Homo sapiens: one gene and its partners. The protein of the gene in region 2 interacts with the protein of the main gene of each other region in a pairwise test. Each region holds a gene or a part of one and is shown on either strand. Other genes may lie near its edges.

Evidence for each region.
Region 1: the proteins of JPH3 (region 2) and KIAA0408 interact in binary tests that used the Homo sapiens proteins (3 or more experiments, as listed by UniProt).
Region 3: the proteins of JPH3 (region 2) and GPR75-ASB3 interact in binary tests that used the Homo sapiens proteins (3 or more experiments, as listed by UniProt).
Region 4: the proteins of JPH3 (region 2) and SF3A3 interact in binary tests that used the Homo sapiens proteins (3 or more experiments, as listed by UniProt).
Region 5: the proteins of JPH3 (region 2) and RASSF8 interact in binary tests that used the Homo sapiens proteins (3 or more experiments, as listed by UniProt).
Region 6: the proteins of JPH3 (region 2) and RAB3IP interact in binary tests that used the Homo sapiens proteins (3 or more experiments, as listed by UniProt).
Region 7: the proteins of JPH3 (region 2) and MLC1 interact in binary tests that used the Homo sapiens proteins (3 or more experiments, as listed by UniProt).

The regions. Positions count from the first base shown.
Region 1 is NC_000006.12:127,452,890-127,456,389, forward strand, and holds part of KIAA0408 (uncharacterized protein KIAA0408), read right to left. Parts: intron 1,213-3,500; 5' UTR 1,093-1,212; coding exon 958-1,092; intron 1-957.
Region 2 is NC_000016.10:87,693,008-87,696,507, reverse strand, and holds part of JPH3 (junctophilin-3), read right to left. Parts: intron 1,872-3,500; exon of another isoform or gene 367-1,871; intron 1-366. UniProt on the Homo sapiens protein: Junctophilins contribute to the formation of junctional membrane complexes (JMCs) which link the plasma membrane with the endoplasmic or sarcoplasmic reticulum in excitable cells.
Region 3 is NC_000002.12:53,695,968-53,699,467, forward strand, and holds part of GPR75-ASB3 (GPR75-ASB3 protein), read right to left. Parts: intron 1-3,500. UniProt on the Homo sapiens protein: Probable substrate-recognition component of a SCF-like ECS (Elongin-Cullin-SOCS-box protein) E3 ubiquitin-protein ligase complex which mediates the ubiquitination and subsequent proteasomal degradation of target proteins. Recognizes TNFRSF1B.
Region 4 is NC_000001.11:37,980,023-37,983,522, forward strand, and holds part of SF3A3 (splicing factor 3A subunit 3), read right to left. Parts: intron 1,790-3,500; coding exon 1,707-1,789; intron 703-1,706; coding exon 564-702; intron 1-563. UniProt on the Homo sapiens protein: Component of the 17S U2 SnRNP complex of the spliceosome, a large ribonucleoprotein complex that removes introns from transcribed pre-mRNAs.
Region 5 is NC_000012.12:26,052,682-26,056,181, reverse strand, and holds part of RASSF8 (ras association domain-containing protein 8), read right to left. Parts: exon of another isoform or gene 3,186-3,500; intron 947-3,185; 5' UTR 839-946; coding exon 736-838; intron 1-735.
Region 6 is NC_000012.12:69,755,860-69,759,359, reverse strand, and holds part of RAB3IP (rab-3A-interacting protein isoform alpha 1), read right to left. Parts: intron 2,956-3,500; coding exon 2,697-2,955; intron 1-2,696. UniProt on the Homo sapiens protein: Guanine nucleotide exchange factor (GEF) which may activate RAB8A and RAB8B. Promotes the exchange of GDP to GTP, converting inactive GDP-bound Rab proteins into their active GTP-bound form.
Region 7 is NC_000022.11:50,064,927-50,068,426, forward strand, and holds part of MLC1 (membrane protein MLC1), read right to left. Parts: intron 1-3,500. UniProt on the Homo sapiens protein: Transmembrane protein mainly expressed in brain astrocytes that may play a role in transport across the blood-brain and brain-cerebrospinal fluid barriers. Regulates the response of astrocytes to hypo-osmosis by promoting calcium influx.

The DNA of each region.
Region 1 (3,500 bases), on a different chromosome or scaffold from region 2:
GCCTGCCTTCTCAGCTCTATTTTAGAGGAAGGGCTTAATAGTTACTTTTCTTCAGCTTTCTTCCTACTATGCCAATTCATATTTTATTCACAGTCAATTACATGGCTGTTAATAAGAAACATGACTGTACTATAAACACATAAAGCACTTACTTTGCCTGCAAAAAAGGCCAAGAAGTCTTAAAATAACAACTTTGGTAATGTGCATAAAACCATATAAAGTCAATACTAAGGATGTTACCAAAAGAAAGCAAGATAAGCATAAATTATTTCCAATTGGTGCAAAAGCTTGAATATACATCAATGCAAATGCTTGAAGGAAATATTTCAGGGTCAACGGACTGAGGGAGGGTTAACGGGAACAAAATGACTGTGTCAGAGTCGTGATATGTCATTTTTCATAACTCCTTTTCCAATAAATATGCCACTAAATGTGCACACCTTGATAGAATAAATCTCATGTCTACTGCCATTTTCTGTTTGATATATGATACTCCTTTTGATTATACTGCATTATCTAACATGTAATTTCCTTTAATAGACATTACTCATAAATCTTCTTAGGAAAGATCTATGTTCTAATGCCCAACTATAATTTTGCTAATCTATGTCCCACCAAGTATATCTTTCTTGCATTTTACTCCTGGACCTGGTATTTGAAAATTCATGCAAAATACATACCTCACTTTTGATAAAAAAGCTCTCTAGCCAGAAAATAATAAGTTGAAACATTATAGAGTGACATTTCAAATGCTTAATTTTCATGCAATGATATAAAATAATCCTTACAATACCATTGGATAAGATTATGCTATTTTTGTTCTAGTAAATGTCACTGAGAAATGTACCTCTTAGGTCGAATAAGGAAATCAAAAACAGTTTCCAATACAAAACAGCCCACAGAATTTTCATCCTGCACTTAAACATTACAGTATATCCAAAACAAATTAAAGTGTACCTCTTCTATTTTCTTCTGCATAATCTTCCATTGACTTTCCCATTCCTTTCTTTCATTGTCAAACTGGTCCAGTAATTCCATCTTTTCCTTATGCCAGTTAGTCTCTGTGTTCTCCCACTGCTTATGTAGGTCCATGGCAACAGTGTAAGTGTCAGCAAAGAAGTGTTTCTGCTCTTCTCTGCCTCCTCTTAACTGTTTCTTGGAAGCTTGAAGTTGTTTTATTTGAAGCAGTCTCACTTGCCTTTAAAATAAAGCCTAATATAAACATAACAAGAGAGAGTTCCAAATCCATGTGCTTTCTGGAAATATATTTTATCATTTTGTCGAGCCATTGACATAAACAAACTATAGGAAAATTGGACTCAAAAGAAAAGAGATGACAACAGTCTACTTAAGAAGAAGAAACTAACACAGTCAATAAAGTAATAAGTATTGTCCAAAGTTTTTTTCCCTTTCTGAGACCAGACAGCAAAATTATAGTGGACAAGATGATTAAATGCGCATGTGAGATGTAATCATCCCTTTAACCACTTACTCTAAAAATAGATTTTTTCATGAATAAGAGTGTAAGTATACAATTCAAATGTATGCTCACATCTACACACTGTGACAGATTCTGCTGCAATAAAATTATTCTTTCTGTTCTGATGCAACCTGATTATATATTCTTATGACTTAAATTCCTGAAACAGAGCTGGTTTGCAGTCTTAATTCTATATTCAGAGATCAAGCCTGTGCCAAATGTCATTACTGTGTTACTTATGAAGACCCCAAAGTTGGTAGTCAACTTAGGACTGATGTATCATCCAGAAACTAATCTAAATTATAAAAAATATATTCATTATGTCACTTCATCAAGGAAAATCTAGAAGCATCAAAACTATCCTGTGAAATATACGTTAAAATTTATCCATGCTCTCTTTTCCTTTGAATAGGCTATATACCATAAACTGCTTAGGATATTGAATACAGGGAACTGAAGAAAACATTTTGCTCAGTTTTCAGGGAATCCTCTATTACATTAAGTAGTGACTGAAATAATTAACTTTCTAGCCTTCAGGGACGTGTACTTAAGGTTTGAAGTCAGAATTTAAAATACCAGCTATGTAACTGGTATAAGTCTAAAATTTCTGGGATTTAGTTTTTTGCATTAAAATGGGGATAGTCATAGAACTGTTAAAAAGATTAAATGGCATACTGAATGCAAAGTAGTTTGAGAAATTTAAGAAAGTTTTCTATTTTTTGCTTTACAAAATTTCATTGTGACTTCAATTAAAAATAATTTTGTATTAAATAAGTCATGTGCCTTTTTAGGGGGTAGAAAAGCATGTTTAAAATGTTTGAATCTCTGTTTAAGATAATTATGCCTATAAGATGTCTAACTCTTCAGTCACTAAGCCATTATCAAAATGCTATAACTTACTGGTGGCAGCTAATGCTAATTACGGACAAAGATCCCAACAGTCAATAGCTTTGTGGGTGCTGGCACTGCCGAATTAAGGCCACATACCCAAGCAGCAAGTGCCAATTTTGTATTCACAGAAGATAACTGCATATTTCAAATCCTAAATATCAGCTAAATATCGAACACTAATTTTATTTTTGTCAGACTGTTGTGAACATACATATCTGACTAGTAAACAGTTTTGAATCTGTATTTTTTGAGTCACGATCAATGAATTAGAATAGAATAAGAAATGAAAAATGTTAGCTATATATGCAGGGTTCTACCTTCAAAACACCCTAATAATTTTGGGATCTATATTGTTACTTTACTCTCAAACTATTTACTAAAGATATTTTGATAATTTTTTCCTATGTCTTTGGCACTAGCACTATTATGATTAATTCAGTCACGAAAAATACATAATTTCATATCTGGCTATTAAAGGTGCTATCATATCTCATTTTATCCATTTGGCCATGCTCAATTTCTGACCTCATTTCTCCACCTCCTCTGTCACCCCTTTCTTTGCTATCTTTCCCACATATAAACCAGTAACCACAAGTACTTGCCATAATAAATGTCAGTGAAGAACAAATAAAATAAAGATGGTAAAGAACATACAGAGTTTTGGTTTTTGTTTGTTTTGGCTAATCTAATTTCCATTGATCTTGATCTTGAATACCTAGTAATCTTTTAGGTTCGTCTAACAATTCTTCATAGGAAATGCAGACAGTGCCTGTCTTGAAACTAGCAGACTGCTTTAAAACTATACGTAATTAACTGTGTGGTGAAACTACCTTGCTGACTAGAAAGTATTTGCCACTGGAACTTCTTAGGAAGAATGGTGTGGTTTGAGATAATAAGAGATAAATGCAGATTTAACCAAAGAAACTAAAAAAGGATGCAGACTAATTTCAAGCTACCTGGAAAAGAGGAGCTATGATAAATCCATGTTTTATCCCAACTGTCTTTAAACATTGGAAATGTTCAGAAATCACCATAAAGTCTTTTCTACAATTATGTAGCAAATGGCTCCAATTTTTCCTTCTATTCCTAACTCTTCTTGAATCGCTTCCATGCTACTGTTGAAAGATGC
Region 2 (3,500 bases):
CACGTCTTTTCACCAAGCTAGCAGACCCTCGGGGGTGGAAGCGTACGGGAGGATGTTAGAAACGCTTGGACACCAAAGGCCCACCAGAACCTGAGCTCCGTGAAGTCCAGACGCGGGAGAGAAGCCCCAGCTGCCTGTACGTCTGAGGTTGCTGGTCCTGGAATTCCCTTGGAATTCCCTTGTGGCCCCGACACCCTGAGTACCAGCTCTCCCAGGGTCCCCTTGGAGAGAACCACCCAGGCCTCCCTGCAAGCAAACGTCTCGGTGCGTGTGGCCTTTGTGCCAGTCAGCAGGCTTCTCCTGCCCTGTGGAACTGGGACCTCAGAATCTCAGAAGGGCCCGCATGGCTGCCATGGCCAGTGTCAGATGCAGCCCAGCAGAGAGGCCCTGGAACTCAGAGGACTCCCAAAGTCCGTGAGCACAGTGTCCTCAACAAAACCCCCCCTCACCACACCTTCCTCAACAAACCCCTCACGCCAACTGGCTCTGGAGGACTGTGTCCAATTGCGAGCTGCCTTGGATTTAGGTTATGGTCCTGAATGCTGCTGCCACCACCTCCCTGAAGTGGCTCACAAGTCCTCAGCCTCCGCCGGAGCCCCAAGTGCCAGACTCCCCCTTCAGCCGCACAGCCTGGGCACTCGGACCAAGCTGCCACCTTCCCTGTGCTTGCCGGGGCCAGGTAGGACACGTCTCACAACAGAGCCTTTTCCGGGGGCGCCCTTCTGCAGTGATTCTTGCAGTCCTGCACTCTGCTGTGTTCTGCTCACACCAGGCAGGGGGAGAGGGAGCGTGGCCCCTCTGGGAAGCTCCCAGGACGGCAGGGGTGGGTGCTGCCCTACAGATACAGTACCTGCTGCACAGGGAATGGACGCCTCCTGGACGGTGGCCCCAGCCCAGGAATGGCTGGGACACCCACTCCAGTCTTGCCCACAGTCTGCTTCCAGAGGACACTTGCCCCTGCCTCTCCCCACCCCCACCACGCCCTGCATCTCGCAGCCACCTGGAAGGAGATGTAGACCCCACTGTGGTAAGGAGCTGTTCAGAGCCCCCGGAGCCCTCCACTTCCTACCACGCAGACATCCTGCTGCTGTGCGACACAGATGGACCAGGGCTTGTCCTGAAGGTCCCAGGATGCACATTCCTCAGGGATGGCTACTCTCCTCCCCCTCCCTGTTAACAGACTGGTTTTCCATGGACTCCTTTAAGCCCCCAAGTCTGGCCTCTGGTCAAATTTCAAAGACATGATGGGGTGGTCTGTTAAGACTGAGTAGCTCATGTGGCACCAGGTGAGGGCTGCTCAGGCCTGCATTAAGGAGGGGAGCCCGAACAACGGGCCTCCCCCTTCCCCCCACCCACAACGAAGCAGCTGCTGCTGGCTCCTCTCCCAGAGACTGGAAGAGAATTGATGAGAACACCGGGGACCCAGCAGTTCCACTCCCAGGCCTAAATCTAAGAGGGCAAAGTCAAGCCTCCACTCAAAACCTTGTGTGTGCACACACTCCCGGCAGCAGGATTCACAACAGCCACGGAGTGGAAGCAGAGCCAGCTGTCCAGTGGAGGATGAACACACAGCGGGGAAGACATGGGCCGTGCAACCGCGGCTGCCACAGAGAAAGCGCAGGAGCAGTGCATGCTGCGTGAGAAGCTGGGCACCAGGCAGAAAGCAGAGTCCGGGAGCTGGGGGAGGAGGGGACAGCAAGTGCCTGCTCAATGGCCCTGAGGTTTAAGGTGATGGAGCTGATCTAGATAGAATTGGGGGTGATGGCTGTATAACTGGGAATACACTAAAATCCCTGACTTGTACACTGTGGCCACCTGAAGTGAACAGTACACGCTTTCTGTCTCAGTAAAGCTACGCAAAGAACAGCAGACATCCCGCATGAAGTCAGCTCTCCAGGGCCGCACCATGGGAGCTATGGGCTGGCAGTGGCCGGCTCTGCTCTTGACACACAGGAAGGATGCAAACTCAGAGCCCCAGTGGGGTCACGGCCTTGCCCGGAGAACTCCCTCTGGGGATGGCAGCCTGCCGTCCCCTTGCCTAGCCTGGATGCCACATCCCGCGGCAGCGAAGCAGCCTCCTGCTTGACCGTCTGGCCCGGGGACCCTTTTGTCTCCTGGGTCAGTTTCATTCTTTCCCCAGGCTGTGCTCCTGATGAAGCAGCATCGTAGCTGATGTTGAAGGGCCTCACGCCAGCACCTAGGCTGGTCTTCCCTGGGTGCCTGCTTGAGCACGTGGCCCAAAACAGCCGTTGCATGGGGCACTCAGAACCCACCACACCCTCGCCCCTTCCCAGCCCGCCACCCTGTGGCTGAGGCCCTGTGCCTTGAGCAAGCTGCTGCCCCTCCTCCTCCTGGTCCAGTTCTGCCCACACCTGGGTGCCCACCTCCCCTCCCTGTGGTCTCCAGGAGCTGCCCCCAACATGCCCTGGGCAGCAGTGCTCATCGTAGCCCCGTCTGTGGCCTGGACAGGCTCTGACCACTCCTGCGTTGGCACAGCTTCCTCGGGAGGCTCCTGCCAACACCACTCGGCACGGTGGGCTCAACACGGCAGCGGCAACGGGTGGGAGTACTTGCCTCTGCCTGGCCCGAATGGCGGTTTTCCATTTGGATTTGGGGATGAGCAGCCAATGAGCCTATCTCATTCCCGTTAACGTGAGAGAAACATCCAGACGCTATCCTCAGGTCTCACACACCCCCGCCGTGCTCTGCACCACACCTGGCAGGGGCACCCCCGACTGTATGCTGGGCATCAGCTCCCAGGCCCGAGCGCCTCACCTCACACTGGGGATTGGAGCCCTCAGGCCCTAGAGACACTGGCTTGAGAAACTTTTGAGATGGAGTCTCGCTCTGTTGCCCAGGCTGGAGTGCAGTGGCATGATCTCAGTTCACAGCAGCCTCTGCCTCCTGCGGGTTCTGGAAATTCTTGTGCCTCAGCCTCCTGAGTAGCTGGAATTACAGGCGTGTGCCACCATGCCCGGCTAATTTTTGTATTTTTAAGTGGAGACAGGATTTCACCCTGGTGGCCAGGCTGGTCTCGAACTGATAACCTCAGGTGATCCACCTGCCTCGGCCTCTCAAAGTGCTGGGATTATAGGTGTGAGCCACCGTGCCTGGCCAAGAAACTTTTTAAAGAAAAAGTTTGCTCAACAGATAAGCTGAACCCCAGTCAGCAAAGGGCTTTGTAAACTGTCCTTGGGATGCAGCTCAGAGAGGAGGGTCCTCAGAGGGTGAGGTGCTGCCTAGGGGGCACCTGCAGCCACAGCAGCACCAGGCCCACACCCTCCGCAACCTCCCAGCCTATCAGGGACCTGAGGCGCAGATGGAAGTGGAGTTGTGGACACAGCAAGGGCCTCCACTCAGCCAGAGAGAAAGCAAGCTGCCCTGAGCCCAGCTTTCCGTGGCATCGTGGCCTCAGGCAGGTGTATTGTGAGTCTTGGGCCCCATGACAACTTGGTTGGGCCGGGCCAGCCTGCAGGGGGCAGAGAACAGCCAAGGGCCCA
Region 3 (3,500 bases), on a different chromosome or scaffold from region 2:
AATCTACTTTAACAACATATTGGAATTTTTATAGAATGTTTCTTATAATAGCTCTTTGAATGTAAATTTGATCAAAGAAAGCAAAACATTTATCATATGCAGTGTAAACATTGGCTTTACCCATTCAATAAAAAAGATCAGTGAACAAAAATTTGACCATGTTAAGCATTTTCATTGCTAAAGTTAAATTTTCCACTGTATTTTTTCTAATGAATATAAAGTAACCAAAGTTACTCCTCAGGAGTAAAAAACATGTAATTGGCATTCTGCATTCAGAATACCGAAAGTTTCACAACTTACTTCAAAATAGTTTCTACTTTACTAGTTCTTAATTCTTTTCTATTTCACATATCCGATAAATACAGCACACACCCAATGGCTTATTGCGACAAAAATTCTCAACTGTTCACAAGTGGGGGAAAATGGGGGAGCAGTATCAGAATTGGGAAAGGGGGGATAAATTACAAAGCCTTCTAAGAGAATAAAGCTAAATAAATCCTTCTGCCTCCAAGTAGTCCATTTAGTTGGCTGGGGAGGAAAGGAAAATAGGCAATGTTTGATTTTTTCCCCCTGCTTAGGTTTTTCCTAATTTAGGAGCAGGAAGAAGCAAGAAAAATTGGCACAAATCCCTCAGGTTAGGCAAGGGATTAAGGATTACTAAAATTGAGTAATAGAACTATAGATAGCCCTCCACATCCTAAGAGTCAACCAATGGTAGATTGAGAATACTAACAACAATAATGAAAAATAACAATACAACAATAAAAAATAACACAAATTTAAAATACAGTACAACAACTATTTACATAGCATTTATAAGGCATTAGGTATTATAAGTAATCTAGAGATGACAAAGTATATGGGAGGAAGTGCATAGACTAGACACAAATACTATGCTATTTTATATAAGGGACTTGAGCATCCATGTGTCAGAGGTGTATGAACCAGAGCAACTCCATCTTGAATAGGGGCTAGGTAAAATAAGGCTGAGACCTATTGGGCTACATCCCCAGGAAATTAAGGCATTCTTAGTCACAGGATGAGACAGGAGGTCCGCACAAGATACAGGTCACAAAGAACTTGCTGATGAAACAGCACTTGGTAAAGAAGCTGGCCAAACCCCATCAAAACGAAGATGGTGATGAAAGTGACCTCTGGTCATCCTCATTGTTCATTATATGCTAATTATAACGCATTAGCATGCTAGAAGACACTCCCACCAGCCCCATGACAGTTTACCAATGCCATGGAAACTTCAGGAAGTTACCCTATAGTATAAAAAGGGGGAAACCCTCAGTCCTGGGACTTGCCCACCCCTTTCCTGGAAAATTCATTCATGAATAATTCACCCCTTGTTTAGCATGTAATCAAGAAGTAACAATAAGTATAAGCAGCTCAGCAGCCTGTGCTGCTGCTCTGCCTATGAAATAGCCATTCTTTTGTTCCCTTACTTTGTTAATAAACATGATTTCACTTTACTCTATGGACTTGCCCCGAATTCTTTCTTGCACGAGATCCAAGAACCCTCTCTTGGGTCTAGATTGGGACCCCTTTCCAGTAACACATAGATTTTGGTATCTGAGGGGGATGAGACTCAAGGCATAATTTACCTTAAATTCCTGCCAGCTGTGAGCCTGTGAAATCAAACAAGTTATCTACTTCCAAAATTCAATGGTGGGACAGGCATAAGACAAACATTCCCATTCCAAAAGGGAGACATATCCAAGAAGCAAAGAGTAATAGGACCCAAGTAAGTCCAAAATTCAAGAGGATTACCTTGAGACTCCAAGATAATCTTCCCTGACTCCACTTCAGGGCTTCCTGGATAAACTGGGATGGAGGCTGAGCCTCCACTACCTCAGGAAGCTCCACCCCTATGACTTTGCTAGGCTCAGTCCCACCCCTATGGCGCCCCTATGGCTTTGCTCAGACTTCAGCTCTCCCAAGATGGCACTTCATGCTGGTAGCTCTACAGTCCTGAGGTCTCAATGGCAGCCCTGCTCCCATGGGTCCTCTAGGCATTGCCCTGGTAGAAACTTTGTGGCAGCTCTAACCCTATATTTCTACTGGGCATTGCTCTAGAAAGGCTCTCTGCAGTGGCTCTTCTCCTGGGACAGGTCTCTTGCCTGAGCCCCCAGACTGTTTTCAACAACCTCTGGAATCTAGGTGGAGGAATCCATGCCCCCACAGCTCTTGCATTCTACATGCCTACAGAATTAGTACCACCCCACAAACCCTCCTGAAAACCAATCTGACCTCCTAGAGCCCTGGGCCTGTGATGGGAGGGACAGCCTCAAAGATCTCTGGAATGCCTTCAAGGTTTTTTTCTAATTGTCTTGATGATATCTTCTATTTGTACAAATCTGCTCAGCAAAGGGTTGCTAGTCACAACGTTGGGTTCCTCTCCTGAAAATTCTCTTTCATTCTTTTCCACACAGCCAGGCTGAGAATTTTCCAAAATTTTCTACTCTTCTTCCCTTCTAATTATATTATGTCCTAAGTCATTCCTTTGCCCTCACATCTCTCTATAAGTGGCCACAAGTAGCCATGCAGCAGCCTGAATGCTTTGCTACTTAGTTATTTCTCCCACCAGATAGCCTAGTTCATCACTCTTAAATTCAGCCTTCCATAAAGTCCTTAGGCATAGACACAGTTCATCCCAGTTCTTCACTAATTAATAACAAGGATGGCCTTTACTCCACTTTCCAACAGGGTATTGCTAATTGTCATCTGAGACCTTGTCATAATGGCCTTTGCTATCCATACTTCTATCAACATTTTGGTCACAACCACTTAAATAATCTCTAAGAAGGTTGAGACTTTCCTAGTCTTCTCATCTTATGAGCACTCACCAGAATCACCCTTAACACTCCATTTACGGAAATATAGGCTTTTTCTAGACTGTTCTTCCAAACTTTACCAGCCTCTACCCATTACCTAGTTCGAAAGCTACTTCTATATTCTTAGGTAATCGTTATGAGCAACAGCCCCACTTCTCAGTACCAAATTTCTGTCTTAGTCCATTCTCTGTTGCTATAACTCAATACCTGAGACTGGGTAATTTATAAAGAAAGTACATTTATTTCTTACAGTTCTGGAGACTGGGAAGTCCAAAGTCAAGGGGCCCATCTGATGAGGGCCTTCTTGCTGTGTCATAACATGGCAGAGGTCATCACTCGGTGAGAGAACAAAAGCATATCAGCTCCAGTCTCTCTTCTTATAAAGCCACCCACCAGTCCCATCACTGGGGCACCATCTTGATGATCTTATCTAATCCTAATTACCTCCCAAATATCTCACCTCCAAATATCATCAACAAATGAATTTGAGGACTGTTTCCAACACCTGAAATTTGAGACACATTCAAACCACAGCAGTAGGTATCAGACAGTTTCTATGTTTTGGTTACAGAAATAAATAAATTAGAAACCAGAAAGGAGCATGAAGGCTGAAAGTACTGGGCAAGTCATATCGAATCAGAGTTAATAGCTTTGGTAGAA
Region 4 (3,500 bases), on a different chromosome or scaffold from region 2:
CTCTTGGTTGGCAGGAACCACATAGCAGTAATGATGTGATTGGTGAAAATCTGGGCACAGTCAAAGGCAAGTGGACCCTGGCAGTCTTGCTCCAAAGTACACTCAAAAAAACTCACATACGGCCAGGTGCGGTGGCTCACACCTGTAATCCCAGCACTTTGGGAGGCCGAGGTGGGCGGATCACCTGAGGTCGGGAATTTGAGACCAGCCTGACAAATATGGAGAAACCCTGTCCCCACTAAAAACACAAAATTAGCCGGGTGTGGAGGCGCGTGCCTGTAATCCCAGTTACTCGGGAGGCTGAGGCAGGAGAACTGCTTGAACCCGGGAAGCGGAGGTTGAGGTGAGCCGAGATCCCGCCATTGTACTCCAGCCTGGGCAACAAAAGCGAAACTCCGTCTCCAAAAAAAAAAAACATAGCATACTTGGCAGGGAATACCTCATTGTCACAAGTGATACCAAGGAATTGATACCTAATGCCCTAAAGTGGAAGCTCAAGATAAAGGAAAATAATTACTTCAATTCCCTGGCATGTCCACCATTCACATCCCACTGAAGCTCACCGGCCATCCAGGAAAGGTCCCATTCTCCCATTTCTTCTCAAACTCAGCCTGAATCTTCCCAAAAAGTTCATTCTGATCTTGGAGAGGCTTCACTCTATCTGTGTAATCCTGAAGGTACTCAAGCAGCATCTCTAGGTATCTACAGAGGAACACACAATGCAGACAAAGCAAAAAGGGTTTCTATTTTTGGTATCTTGTTATTCCCTGCAGAATATAAAGTACTTATAATTCTAGTAATGCTATCTTTTTAATACTCTTTTTTTTTTTTTTTTTTTTTTTTTGAGGCAGAGTTTCGCTCCTCTTACCCAGGCTGGAGTGCAATGGCGGGATCTTGGCTCACCACAACCTCCGCCTCCCGGGTTAAAGCGATTCTCCTGTCTCAGCCTCCCGAATAGCTGGGATTACAGGCATGCGCCACCATGCCCGGCTAATTTTGTATTTTTAGCAGAGACGGTGTTTCTCCACGTTGGTCAGGCTGGTCGCGAACTCCTGACCTCAGGTGATCCGTCTGCCTCGGCCTCCCAAAGTGCTGGGATTACAGGTGTGAGCCACCGCGCCCGGCCAATACTCATTTTTAAATGAACTTACAATGGACTTTTTTCCCAACATGTCATTTTGATTCTGACCTTTCCCGCCTCCTTTTATTCTCATAAAATGATGCTAAATACTAAGGTCTTAATTACTTTGCACATAAAAGATTTCAGTAAAAAGAAAATGAGAAAAAGAGGGGAAGGGTATAAAATCACTAATCAGGAGAGTAATTAACAAAAACATAAATTTTTCACTTATACATCACACCTAAGCATCTCACTTCAGTCACTATCTGAGAAAGTCTAATTTTTTTTCCCATTAAACTCCAAAAACACAGAAATCCCAGAGTGGGAGAGTTCCTTCTATAATGAGACAAAATTAAGAACACTATGGGCATAAGATGGAAGATGTGCCCACAGACACACCTTTGTCCACGTCCAGACTATCGCAAAGGTTTTAAAACCACATCATTCATAACCCCATCCTCCAATAAACCTGGAAGTATGCCTTCATGTATGCCTTCCAGGCAACAAATTCAGAACTTCACCCTCAAAAACTTCACATTATCTTCTAATCAAATCCAGGAGAGGCCTAGAAACTATTAATGCCTACCTCTTATACTCTGCATTCTTCCTTTCTTTAGGAATGTCAAATAATTGGTCAAAGATGGACAGGTATGTGATATAATCCAGCTTCTGAAAAGAGGAAAGAAATGACAAGAAATTCAGTTAGGTATTTATACTGTAACAAGTTACAATATAATCTCCAATAAGTGAGATCAAAATTGAGTGTTTTCTAAAGAAGTAACAAGGGCTGGCTAATTTTGGTTTTTTTTGCTTGCCTATCATTCAATCCTACTACAACTGGAGTGTTAATTTCACTGGACTGAAGGAAAATATCAGACATAATAACTTTACAAAATAAAGATCAAGTTAATGAACATTAAACTAAAAGAAACGTTTGTCGATTATTACCTCATGCTAGGGTCTTGGTTAAAGACTCTGACACCCTAAAACAAGGTGCTCAAAGGTGCCATTTGTTCACGCAAGTAACTACTTATTAAGCATCTTTGTACCAAGTACGGGGTACAGAAAACAACAAAACAGACAAGGGATCTGACTTGCCTGCATGGAACTTGAAGTTTGGTCACTACAACTCTGGGACATTTCTTCACAATTCCATGAGGAATCTAATCATGGATTTCCTTGTGATCCTTTTGAGATTGTCATATTAAACCTCATCTCTTGTGATAAGCTATTTTTTTTTTTTTTGAGACGGAGTTTGGCTCTTGTTGCCCAGGCTGGAGTGCAATGGCATGATCTCGGCTCACCACAACCTCCACCTCATGGGTTCAAGCGATTCTCCTGCCTCAGCCTCCTGAGTAATTGGGATTACAGGCATGAGCCACCATGCCCGGCTAATTTTTTCTATTTTTAGTAGAGACAGGGTTTCTGCATGTTGGTCAGGCAGGTCTTGAACACCTGACCTCAGGTGATCCACCTGCCTTGGCCTCCCAAAGTGCTGGGGTTACAGGCGTGAGCCACCGCGCCCGGCCTGTGATAAGCTATTTTTAAACATCTTTAAGAAAAGACATTAAATACCTTTTTGCTGACTGAAAGATCATGTTGTTTTATTTTCCATGTACCTAGTATTGTTTGTGTCTAAAACAGGAACACCTAGAAGAACACATAAATCTGGGTGGGCACAGTGGCTCATGCCTGTAATCCCAAGGCTTTGAGAAGCTGAGGCAGGAGGATTGATTGAGTCCAGGAGTCCAAGACTAGCCTGGACAATACAGTGAAACCCTATTTCTACAAAAAAAAATTTTTTTTTTTGAGTTTGAGTTTTGCTCTTGTTGCCCAGGCTGGAGTGCAATGAATGACACAATCTCGGCTTACCGCGACCTCCGCCTCCTGGGTTCAAGCGATTCTCCTGCCTCAGCCTCCTGAGTAGCTAGGATTACAGGCATGCGCCACCATGCCCAGCTAATTTTGTATTTTTAGTAGAGACGGGGTTTCTCCATGTTGGTCAGGCTGGTCTTGAACTCCTGACCCCAGGTGATCTGCCCACCTTGGCCTCCCAAAGTGCTAGGATTACAGGCGTGAGCAACTGTGTCCAGCCAGGAACATGGTATTTATTTAAAAAAAAAAAAAAAAAAAAAAGAATTTAAAGAAATCTTATGTAAGGCTGGATGCAGTGGCTTCCGTCTATAATCCCAACACTTTGTGAGGCCAAGACAGACGGATTGCTTGAGCTCAGGAGTTTAAGACCAGCCTTGGCAACATGGCAAAACCCCATCTCTACACAAAATACAAAAAATTAGCTGGGCATGGTGGCACACGCCTGTAGTCCCAAGTACTTGGTGGGGCTGAGGCGGGATCCATCACTTGAGTCCAAGAGGTCTAG
Region 5 (3,500 bases), on a different chromosome or scaffold from region 2:
AGACCGAGTTTCGCTGTCACCCAAGCTGTAGTGCAGTGGCATGATCTTGGCTCACTGCAACCTCTGTCTCCTGGGTTGAAGCCATTCTCCTTCCTCAGCCTCCATAGTAGCTGGGATTACAGGTGCGCACCACCACGCCCGGCTAATTTTTGTAGTTTTATTAAAGACGGGTTTGACCATGTTTGCCAGGCTGGTCTCGAACTCCTGACCTCAAGTGATCTGCCTGCCTCAGCCTCCCAAAGTGCTGGGATTACAGGCGTGAGCCACCATGCCCAGCCAATCATAAGATTTTAAAAGTATACATTATCTTTCCAGTGAAGAACGATGTTATTTCATTTGTTGTATTTTCTGAAAGTATGGAGAAATAAACAATAGGTGGGATTTTTCCTAATGAGGGATTCTGGGAACTAAGAATCTAAATTCTTAATCTGGGTCTAAATTTTGGCTCATGGAAACATCTTTAGTTTCAGAAGTCACTGTTTAGGCTGAACAACAGGAGAGGAGAAGGCAGTGTAGATGTTAACTCAGGGTTAGTAAAATCTAGGGGTGTCAGAGAACAAGCATCATCACAGATGTACCTAAACACAGGCAAACTGTAATAAGTACAAGAGTGCCTGTGAGACTTATTATGGAACCAAATGAACAAAATCCCCTAGAAATCTATATTTAAAACAAACACATACAACGAAAGAAAGCACAATGTACTTTTCTCAGATACCCACAGAGTTCACTCACCTATTGCTTGAGCTAAGGCTATGACAACCTCCTGGCAAGTTGTGACTTCAGTGACTCCACAAACAATCCTCTGAACTCCATCCACCCATACTTTAAGTTCCATGGTGCACCGGCCAGTCACTCAAGGTCCCTGAGAGTGGTCATCAGGGTGTTAGGTCATGTCTCTAGCTGCAGGAACACGGAGTGGAGAAGACTAAGTCTGTGTAGTCAGCTAAAAAAGGGCAAAAAATCACTTGTAATAAAATGAATCAACATTTCTTCTAGTAAGTATGTAAGTATTACACAAAACAAATTTTAACATATCATAATCTTACTGAAGTACACAGGCTTATTTTACAGAAATGAATTAAGCAACACAAATGCAACTACAGTCACCTATCATGACAGTGTTTCATGTTACAACTATTTTTATCATAATTTTAATCATGAACTCATGCTCCATTACATTAAAAATTCCTATTTAGTTGCCAAGCCCTATTCAATATATGCGCTGTTTTTCTGTCCTGTTTTTTTTCTTTTTGGATTATTTCATTAGGATAATTTCTGAGGCAAAACTAAAGAAAAAAAGTTTGTCATTTTAGGAATTATCAATAAAATTGAACCACTTTGCAGTGTGCAGTGTTTTGCCAATACTATTAACAAATTTAAGAACAGTTGTCAAAGTATCTTACTCAGCTCACATTCCTGATTTAAAACAAACAAACAAACAAAAAAACTGCTACCTGTCTGCCTTCCTAATATTTTTTTCCCTTATTATTTCATTCTCTCTTCTCATGTATGATGTCTTGACAACTGTTTTAAATGTGTCCCTTGCCTCCCTCTCCCCACAGGACAAAGAGTGTCTTCCCGCTGAAATGCCAACACCAGGCACAGCATGAGGGCAGGTGGGTAAAAAATCTTAGTCAAAGGAAACGAATTCCTTTGACGACCAACAGTTTCCTCATGTGTGAACTGTTTATCCTTTTCTCATTTAACTGGGTTTGATAGTTTTCTTAAATTACAAGAGTTATTCAAAAAATATAAACATTAACCGTTTGTTCTACTTGCTGTGTTTACCCAGTGTTTGATTTTGTATTTGGCTGCATTATAAGCAAAGCAGAAATTTTTACTTTGTCATATAGTCAAACCAAATATTCTTTATTTCCTGTATCGATAAGAATGTTACTAGCCTGCTAAAAATGATCACAATTCTTTTTCCTGTGGGTTTAAAAAAACTCTCAACTCTTCCTATGTAAATTCTCTAATCAATCTGATTTTTTGTTTGTCCATTGTTTTGTGGTCTTCCCACGTCTTTGTTGTTAAAATTCATGAGATATAATAAACATTGATTTAATTAAGAGAACATTTGGATTTGTTTATAGGTTTACAGTGGCACTGGTATTTCAGAATTAATGGCTTATTTAAAAGCTTATTTTAAAAACACTAGAAATTTTTCTTGTAAAACAGTAGTTACTACAAACAGTGGCTTAGTCCCTTGCACATTCTTTTAAAAGACCTAAGACAGTTCTAGGCCATCTGGTCACCTGGATAGGTAAGTCAGAACACATGCAAGGGGAAGGAGAATAAACCTAATTATTTTCTCCAGAGAAGGTACACAAATCCTTTTTGTCATCCTAAAAACAAGAAAGGCCTGGCTGAACATTAATCTCCTAGCACTTTGCTTTAGCTCTCTGCATATGACACAGCATAGGTTTCATTATCCCCTGTATGAAGAAAGAAGGGGCCACCTTGGCAATGACAAGCTGATTCCATAACTGTGCTCCTCAGTTATGAGGGCCTGTGAGATGTTAAAGTTCCTGGGGATAAAGGCTTCCAAAGTTAAAGAAATGTTAAGAAAGCCAGTAAATAAAGTTAAACAAGTTCCTTTACAGCTAGACTTCTCTGAGACTTTAATAGGCTGGTGTGCACTCTAAATTTCAAAGGAGAGTTTTATATGCTGCCCAATCTAGAGAACATTTAAGAAAACAGAAAAGTTCTGACTTGTTTCCTCTTCTGCGAGGCACTCTACTTACTAAAAATAGAATATGTTTTATTCTTTCTTGGGATAAAATTAAGGTATCAAAAATGGCCTAAGATTAATATATTGCTTTATTAAATTTTTGTAAAAGCTGGATTAAAGTCTATTTAAAGTGCCTTCTTATTCATTAAAATATCTTAAACTTGGGAAATCAAGCAAGAAAGGGTACAGATCTCATTAAAGCCCCCCTGCCACCAAGAAACCCATCATTTCAAATGATTCTATAGGACTTTTTTTTTTTTCAATTGTGGAAGAAAACATAAGATCTATCCATTTAACACATTTTTAAGTACATGATACAGTATTATTAACTACAGGCATCATGTTGGACAGCAGATCTCTAGAACTTACTCATAATTGTGTAACTGAAACTTTATACCCCTTCTACAAGCAACTGCCCATTTCGCCCTGTCCGCAGCCCCCAACAACCTACATTCTATTCTGTTTCTATAAATCTGATGTTAGGTATCTCACAGACGTTTTATATTCCTTTTTAGACTTTAGCATACTGCCACATATTTTCCTATCTGAATTATCATTGTTTCACTTTGAACTTTTAGTCATATATTGAGTCATTAATTCAACATAGTATTGGAAATTCAGGCCAGGGCAATCAGGCAAGAGAAAGAAATAAAGTGTAGTCAAATGGGAGGAGAGGAAGTCAAGTTGTCTTTCTTTGCAGATGACATGATCCAATATCTGGAAAACCCCATCGTCTCAGCCCAAAATACTCCACTCTAGGAGCTGT
Region 6 (3,500 bases), on a different chromosome or scaffold from region 2:
TTGTTCTGTACTAAGAAAAATTCTTCTGCCTTGGGATGCTGTTGATCTATGACCTTACCCCCAACCCTGTGCTCTCTGAAACATGTGCTGTGTCCACTCAGGGTTAAATGGATTAAGGGCGGTGCAAGATGTGCTTTGTTAAACAGATGCTTGAAGGCAGCACGCTCGTTAAGAGTCATCACCACTCCCTAATCTCAAGTACCCAGGGACACAAACACTGCGGAAGGCCGCAGGGTCCTCTGCCTAGGAAAACCAGAGACCTTTGTTCACTTGTTTATCTGCTGACCTTCCCTCCACTATTGTCCTATGACCCTGCCAAATCCCCCTCTGCGAGAAACACCCAAGAATGATCAATTAAAAAAAAAAAATCTTAGAAGTGACCAGAAGGAGGAAGAAAACCAATTATCTACAAAGGAATGACAACTACATTGACAGCTGGCTTCTCATCAACAATGATAGATGCCGGAAGACAAAGACGTAAAATTATGAAAGTGTTTGTTGAGAAAAAAAAAAACAACCATCAACCTAGAATTGTATGCCCCGTTAAACTATCATTCAAAAATAAAAGTAAAACTTGTAAAAAAAAAAAAAAAAAAAAAAAAAGGAATGAACACACAGATGCCCATGTAGCTAACATTTCTGATGTTTATCTATGTAAAGATTCTTTGTTATTATTTAAGTCTCTTTAAAAGATAATACTGTTTAATGCAAAACAATAGTGTTTTGTGGGGTTTAAACACACAAAGAAGTGAAACATACAACAATTATTGCACAAAAACTAGGAGGGGAAAAATAAAAGTATACTTTTGTAAGGTTTGTACACCAGATGTAAAGTAATATATCACCGGAAGGTAGAGAGTGATAAGTTAAATATGTCTACTATAAACGCTAAAGCAACAAAGATAAAAGCCACAGGAAGATGAAATTGTTTTAAAAATACAGAATTAATTCAAAAGAAAGGATACAAAAGGGAAAAAGGAACAAATGAGACAAACAGAAAACAAACAGTAAGATGGTAAATTTAAACCAAACTATACCATTATCCATTAAATGTAAATGGTCTAAACACCAATTAAAAGACAGAGATAATTACAAAGGATCAAAAGAACAAGACCTAACTGTACACTATCTATAAGAAACTCGTATTAAATAGGAAGACACAGTTAACCAAGTAAGTAAAAAGTATAGAAAATGGCCTCTCTTAAGATAAGACTAAAGAAAATGGCTGTTGACATAGTTTGATTCACAAGTTGTCACAATTCAGGAAGTATTTTTATATTCAAGAGTCCTTTTCAAGCCTTGAGATCTAAGTAAATATTAATACTAACTTATACTCTTCATAAAAGTCACCACATATGTGTTTACACATCACCATTTCAATTATCCAAACAGTATCTCTAAATACAGCATATTAGAGATTTCAAAGGAAATTCTCAAGTGAGCTAAGAAATTAGCAATCTGTTCTGATCAATAACCATGTGTTCTCAAAGATGGATACATATACTCAAAATTTTACCTCTATATAATGTGTGATTTTAATAAAATACTATCTATTAAGACAACAAAGTCTGAGCCAGATGACAGAAACAAAATGCAACCACATCTCACCACATCCTTTTCCTTTGGGAAGGAACTGGGGATTAAAAAAATGAATATACTACGCTCATGAGAGACAAGTATGCTAGGGAAAGAGTGGGAATACATTTGTGAAATGTCATGGTAGGTTGGATATTACACCTATAAATGTTTGCCCTACCTTCTCAATTTTCTACATGTGAATTGGTATTTCACCTAGGTTGTCAGGTTTATATATGCAGTTTTTCATATCATTCCATTATACTTTTGATATGAGTCTCCAGTGACATCCTGCATTTCACTCCTGCTACTGATAAATCTGTCTTCTTTTTGTCAGTCTTGCTAGAGGTTTGCAATTTTATTAATCTTCTTAAAGAACCAACATTTTGTCTCACTCATTTTCTCTATTTTTTCTGTTATCAATTTCATTGATTTTTGCTCTTTATTATTTCCTTCCTTCTACTTGCTCTGGTTTTATTTTGCTCTTCTTTTTACAGATTCTTAAAGTGGGAGCTTAGATTGTCCATTTGAGACTTTTCCTGTTTTCTGATGTATGCATTTCATTCTATAAATTTTCCTCTGAAATTTAACTGCAGACTCAGAAAAAGAATAAGATATGGCCACAAGTTTGGAAATAAATAGCAGAAACTTTTAAAATGACCAAATGGGAAACACAACAATTTACCAAGAAAATTCTCCAAGGTAAGATACAGAAAATATTCAAACTCAGCTTAAACTCAAAACAAAATGACTTAGACTGAGTGACTTCAAGTAAATAACCATTTAGTCAGCCATGTAGTAAGAAGGAAAAACCCTGCATGTGGAATATAGCCCACTCAATCTGCATTACAGATAATACGAGACAGGGAGCAGGCAATGCAGTGGGGCACAGAAGAGTTAACAGAGCCACATTTTTCCAGTTAGTAGTCTTAGAGGAACTTCTTTACTACCCAACCAGTTTCACGGATTCCTAAATGCTGCCTAACAGGAGCTGAGGCTGGGCATATGTGACGGATAAATGTACAACCATCATGATTTCATTTCTGCAGGTTGCCCCACCCCATGGAGAAATACTAATTTCTAATATAATATATGGAAGAATAAAATATCTTCTTTCTTACCCTCTGAGCTTTTGCGAGTTCTTCTTTTAATCGTTCATAGCCCTTTTCTCTAACTTCCAAAACAGATGGGCTTCGTAAACGAGACAGACTATCAGTACTCAACCCAAAAATATCATCACTGCCATCGCAAGCCTCTGTTATAGTAGCACCCTGTAAAAACTCTCTCTCTGCATTATAGTTGTCCTTTCTTGTAGTTAATTTAGTTAATCCAGCTGTGACTCCAGAGGTAGAGCAAGGGGCTGGGTCTGTAACATGAAAGCTGTAAAGGAGAGAGACATTTTTCAGAAAATATCAGCATATGCTCCAATAGAACTGGCTTAAACACACAGCTCTAGAACTGTACTACCCAATTTGGTAGCTTCTATATTTAAATAAATAGTATGTCCTCAGTCATATCAGCCACATTTCAAGTGCTCAATAGCTACATGTGGTTAATACCTATCATTCATATTAGATAGCACAGAAATAGAACATTTTCATCAACACAGAAAGTTCTACAGGACAGTGCTACTCAAGAGCAGGGGTTAACAAACTATAGCCTACAGGCTAAACCAAGCCTTCCACCCGTTTTTATAAGGTATCAATGAGCCAAGTATAGTTTTTACAATTTCAAATAGTTGAAAAGAAATCTTTAAAAGAATATTTTGTGACACATGAAAATTAAATGAAATTCAAAATTCTGCATCCATATATGAAGTTTTATTGGAACACAACCACTCTCATTCATTTACATACTGTCTATGGCTGCTTTCAAACTCTAAAGGCAGAGTTGAATAGTTGCAACAGAGACTGCATGGCTTGCAA
Region 7 (3,500 bases), on a different chromosome or scaffold from region 2:
AACATAAAACTTTTTTTTGCGACAGTCTCCCTCTGTCACCCAGGCTGGCGTGCAGTGGCGCGATCTCGGCTCGCTGCAACCTCTACATCCCAGGTTCAAGCGATTCTCCTGCCTCAACCTCGCCAGTAGCTGGGATTACAGGTACCCGCCACCACGCCCAGCTAATTTTCGTAGTTTTAGTAGAGACGGGGTTTCACCATGTTAGCCAGGCTGGTCTCCTAACCTCAGGTGATCTGCCTGCTTCGGCCTCCCAAACTGCTGGGATTACAGGCATGTGCCACTACGCCCGGCCTGGATTTTAAGTAATTATTAGAAAGTCTGGTACTTGTGTTCCCAGCTGGAGTTTACCCTGGAGGATGGTAAAGGCATGGGCCCCATGTGGTCTTTGCTCTTCGGTTGTTGAGACACCATTTATTGCAAAGCCTATGCTTTCCTCAGTCTCAAAAAAAAAAAATCCAGAGCCATTAAAGAAAATATTAATCAACTTAACTATTTAAAAAAATAGCTTTCACATAACAAAAATCACAACAAGCAGAACAAGAAATAGCCGCCAGGCTGAGACCACCATTTGTATCCTCCATCACAGATGGAGCTGGTCTCCCCCGGCACCAGGGTTAGCGGAAAATGGTCAGGAGACATGAGCAGAGTCCACTGAAAAAGCAATGCAGACGTCCTCATGCTTTGTAAGAGGTCCTCGTCCTCACCCACATTGAGACGGAGGTGCTCCCACCCGTGTCACCGAACTCCAGCGTGACACCCTCTGTGGGGGGCTGTGGAGAAGTGAGCACCTTCACGCCATTGGCAGGAGGGAAGGTGGACGGCCCCCATTGAGGAGGTCGCCGAGATTTATCAGCATGACAGCTGCACCTACCCTCTACCCAGCAGTCTCTCTCCTAGCTGGATATCCTAAAGATGCGCTGAGGATTCAAAAGGAAGATGCGTGCAGGTTGTTCACGGAGGAGTTATTTATAGTAGCAGACGGTTGGAAATAACTCAGTTTCCATCACTAGGGACTGGCTGGGTTGACCGGGCAGTCAGGAGCGATGAAGGAATTCAGAAGAGCTCTGATCCCCTTGGGTATCGAGAAAACACCAGGATAAATTATTAAGTTTAAAAAAACAAGCAAGGGGCTGGGCACGGTGGCAGAAGCCTCCTCATCCCAGCACTTTGGGAGGCCAAGGTGGGCGGATCGCTTGAGCCCAGGAGCTCATGACCAGCTCAGGCGACAGAGTGAGACCCTGTCTCTGAAAAATAAAATAAGTAAATACATAATTAAAAAGCGAGGTACATGGCTGGGCACAGTGGCTCACGTCTGTAATCCCAGCACTTCGGGAGGCCAAGGTGGGCGGATCGCTTCAGCCCAGGAGCTCATGACCAGCCCGGGCAACAGAGTGAGACCCTGTCTCTGAAAAATAAAATAAATAAATACATAACTAAAAAGCGAGGTATATGGCTGGGCACGGTGGCTCACGTCTGTAATCCTAGCACTTTGGGAGGCCGAGACAGGCAGATCACTTAAGGTCAGGAGTTCAAGACCAGCCTGGCCAACATAGTGAAACCCTGTCTCTGCTAAAAGTACAAAAATTAGCCGGGTGTGTTGGCATATGCCTGTAATCCCAGATGCTCCGGAGGCTGAGGCAGGAGAATCACTTGAACCCAGGAGGCAGAGGTTGCAGTGAGCCAAGACTGTGCCACTGCACTCCAGCCTGGGAGACAGAGTGAGACTCTATCTTAAAAAAAAAAAAATGGCAAGGTACAGAATAGTGATTCTAGTATACAAGCTATTTTGTAAGAAAGAAAAAAAAATTATCATCTGGTTGCCCATAAGAGGAGCAGGTCAGTCAGGCATGAGACCACAGCTTTTCTGAGCTCGTCTTTTATAGTTTGGCTTTTGAACCACATAAATATTTTATATATTCAAAAAATACCATTTTAAAAAGAAAAAAAGCACCAAGCCCTAAAATGGAATACAACCAGAGGCCATTAAACTTAATGGGGTATCGAACCCAGAGGATAACCCCACACAGAAAGGGGCCGACTTCGATGGCGTGTGGCCGTCCCCTGCTAGCAGAATGCATGCTGAAGATAAAAGGGAAGCCTCAGGCTCACTCAGGAGATGGCCCCTGGGTGGTAATATTGTCTCTTGTAATCGTGAACAATTATATGCATATTGTAAGACAACATGAAGTAGGAGATATATTAAATGTCACAGGAAACAAAATAATTGGAGTAGGAGTGGGTGAAGCAAACACAAGAGAAGTGAAGAAAAAACCCTGGGCCGGGTGTTGTAGCTCACTCCTGTAATCCCAGCACCTGTGGGAGGCCGAGGACGCTATCCCCCTTCAGACAGTGACTCCATGCCCCCATCAGACAGTGACTCCATCCCCCATCAGACAGTGACTCCATTACCCCATTAGACAGTGACTCCATCCCCCGTCAGACAGTGACTCCATCCCCCGTCAGACAGTGACTCCATCCCCCGTCAGGCAGTGACTCTATCCCCTGTCAGGCAGTGACTCCATCCCCCGTCAGGCAGTGACTCCATCCCCCCATCAGGCAGTGACTCTATCCCCTGTCAGGCAGTGACTCCATCCCCCTGTCAGGCAGTGACTCCATCCCCCCATCAGGCAGTGACTCCATCCCCCCGTCAGGCAGTGACTCCATCCCCCGTCAGGCAGTGACTCCATCCCCCATCAGTGACTCCATCCCCCATCAGACAGTGACTCCATCCCCCATCAGACAGTGACTCCATCCCCCATCAGGCAGTGACCCCATCCTCCATCAGACAGTGACTCCATCCATCCATCAGACAGTGACTCCATCCATCCATCAGACAGTGACTCCATCCCCCATCAGACAGTGACTCCATCCCCCATCAGACAGTGACTCCATCCCCCATCAGACAGTGACTCCATCCCCCCATCAGGCAGTGACTCCATTCCCCATCAGCACACGCATGTTGACCTGGAGCAAACAGCTTAATACAGGTCTTCTAATGATTTGGGTGCAAAACCACTTATACTGGAAAAAAAAAAACAAAAAAACAAAAAAACACTAGGTATCTAAGAAATACATCTAGCTACACGTGCCTGAGCCTCAGAAGTCGTGTTGGAGATAAGCTCCTACTGGGTCAGCTCAAAGTAACAGGACTTTGAATTCTCCTTAAATTCACCTGTTAAACTCAATGCAGTTCTGATGCAAATCCGAAAAGCATGTCTCATAAACCCAGGACAGATTCTAAAATGGGCTCAGGGACAGAGTGGGTCCCAGGTCCCTGTGAAGCAGGTGGTGGCCCCAGATACAGGGCGGAATCGAGGCCCCGAGGCCCTGGGGCCAGGCTGGCATTGGGGAGCACGGTCACCGCTGCCCAGGAACAGCGGAGGAGGTGCCTCCTGGAGCTGTCCCTGGAGCCAGCGCCCCCAGAGTCCCAGGCAAAGCCAGCAAGGGCCAGGCCAACACGCAGAGCACCACATGTCTGGGGGGCTCTGAAATAAAATACA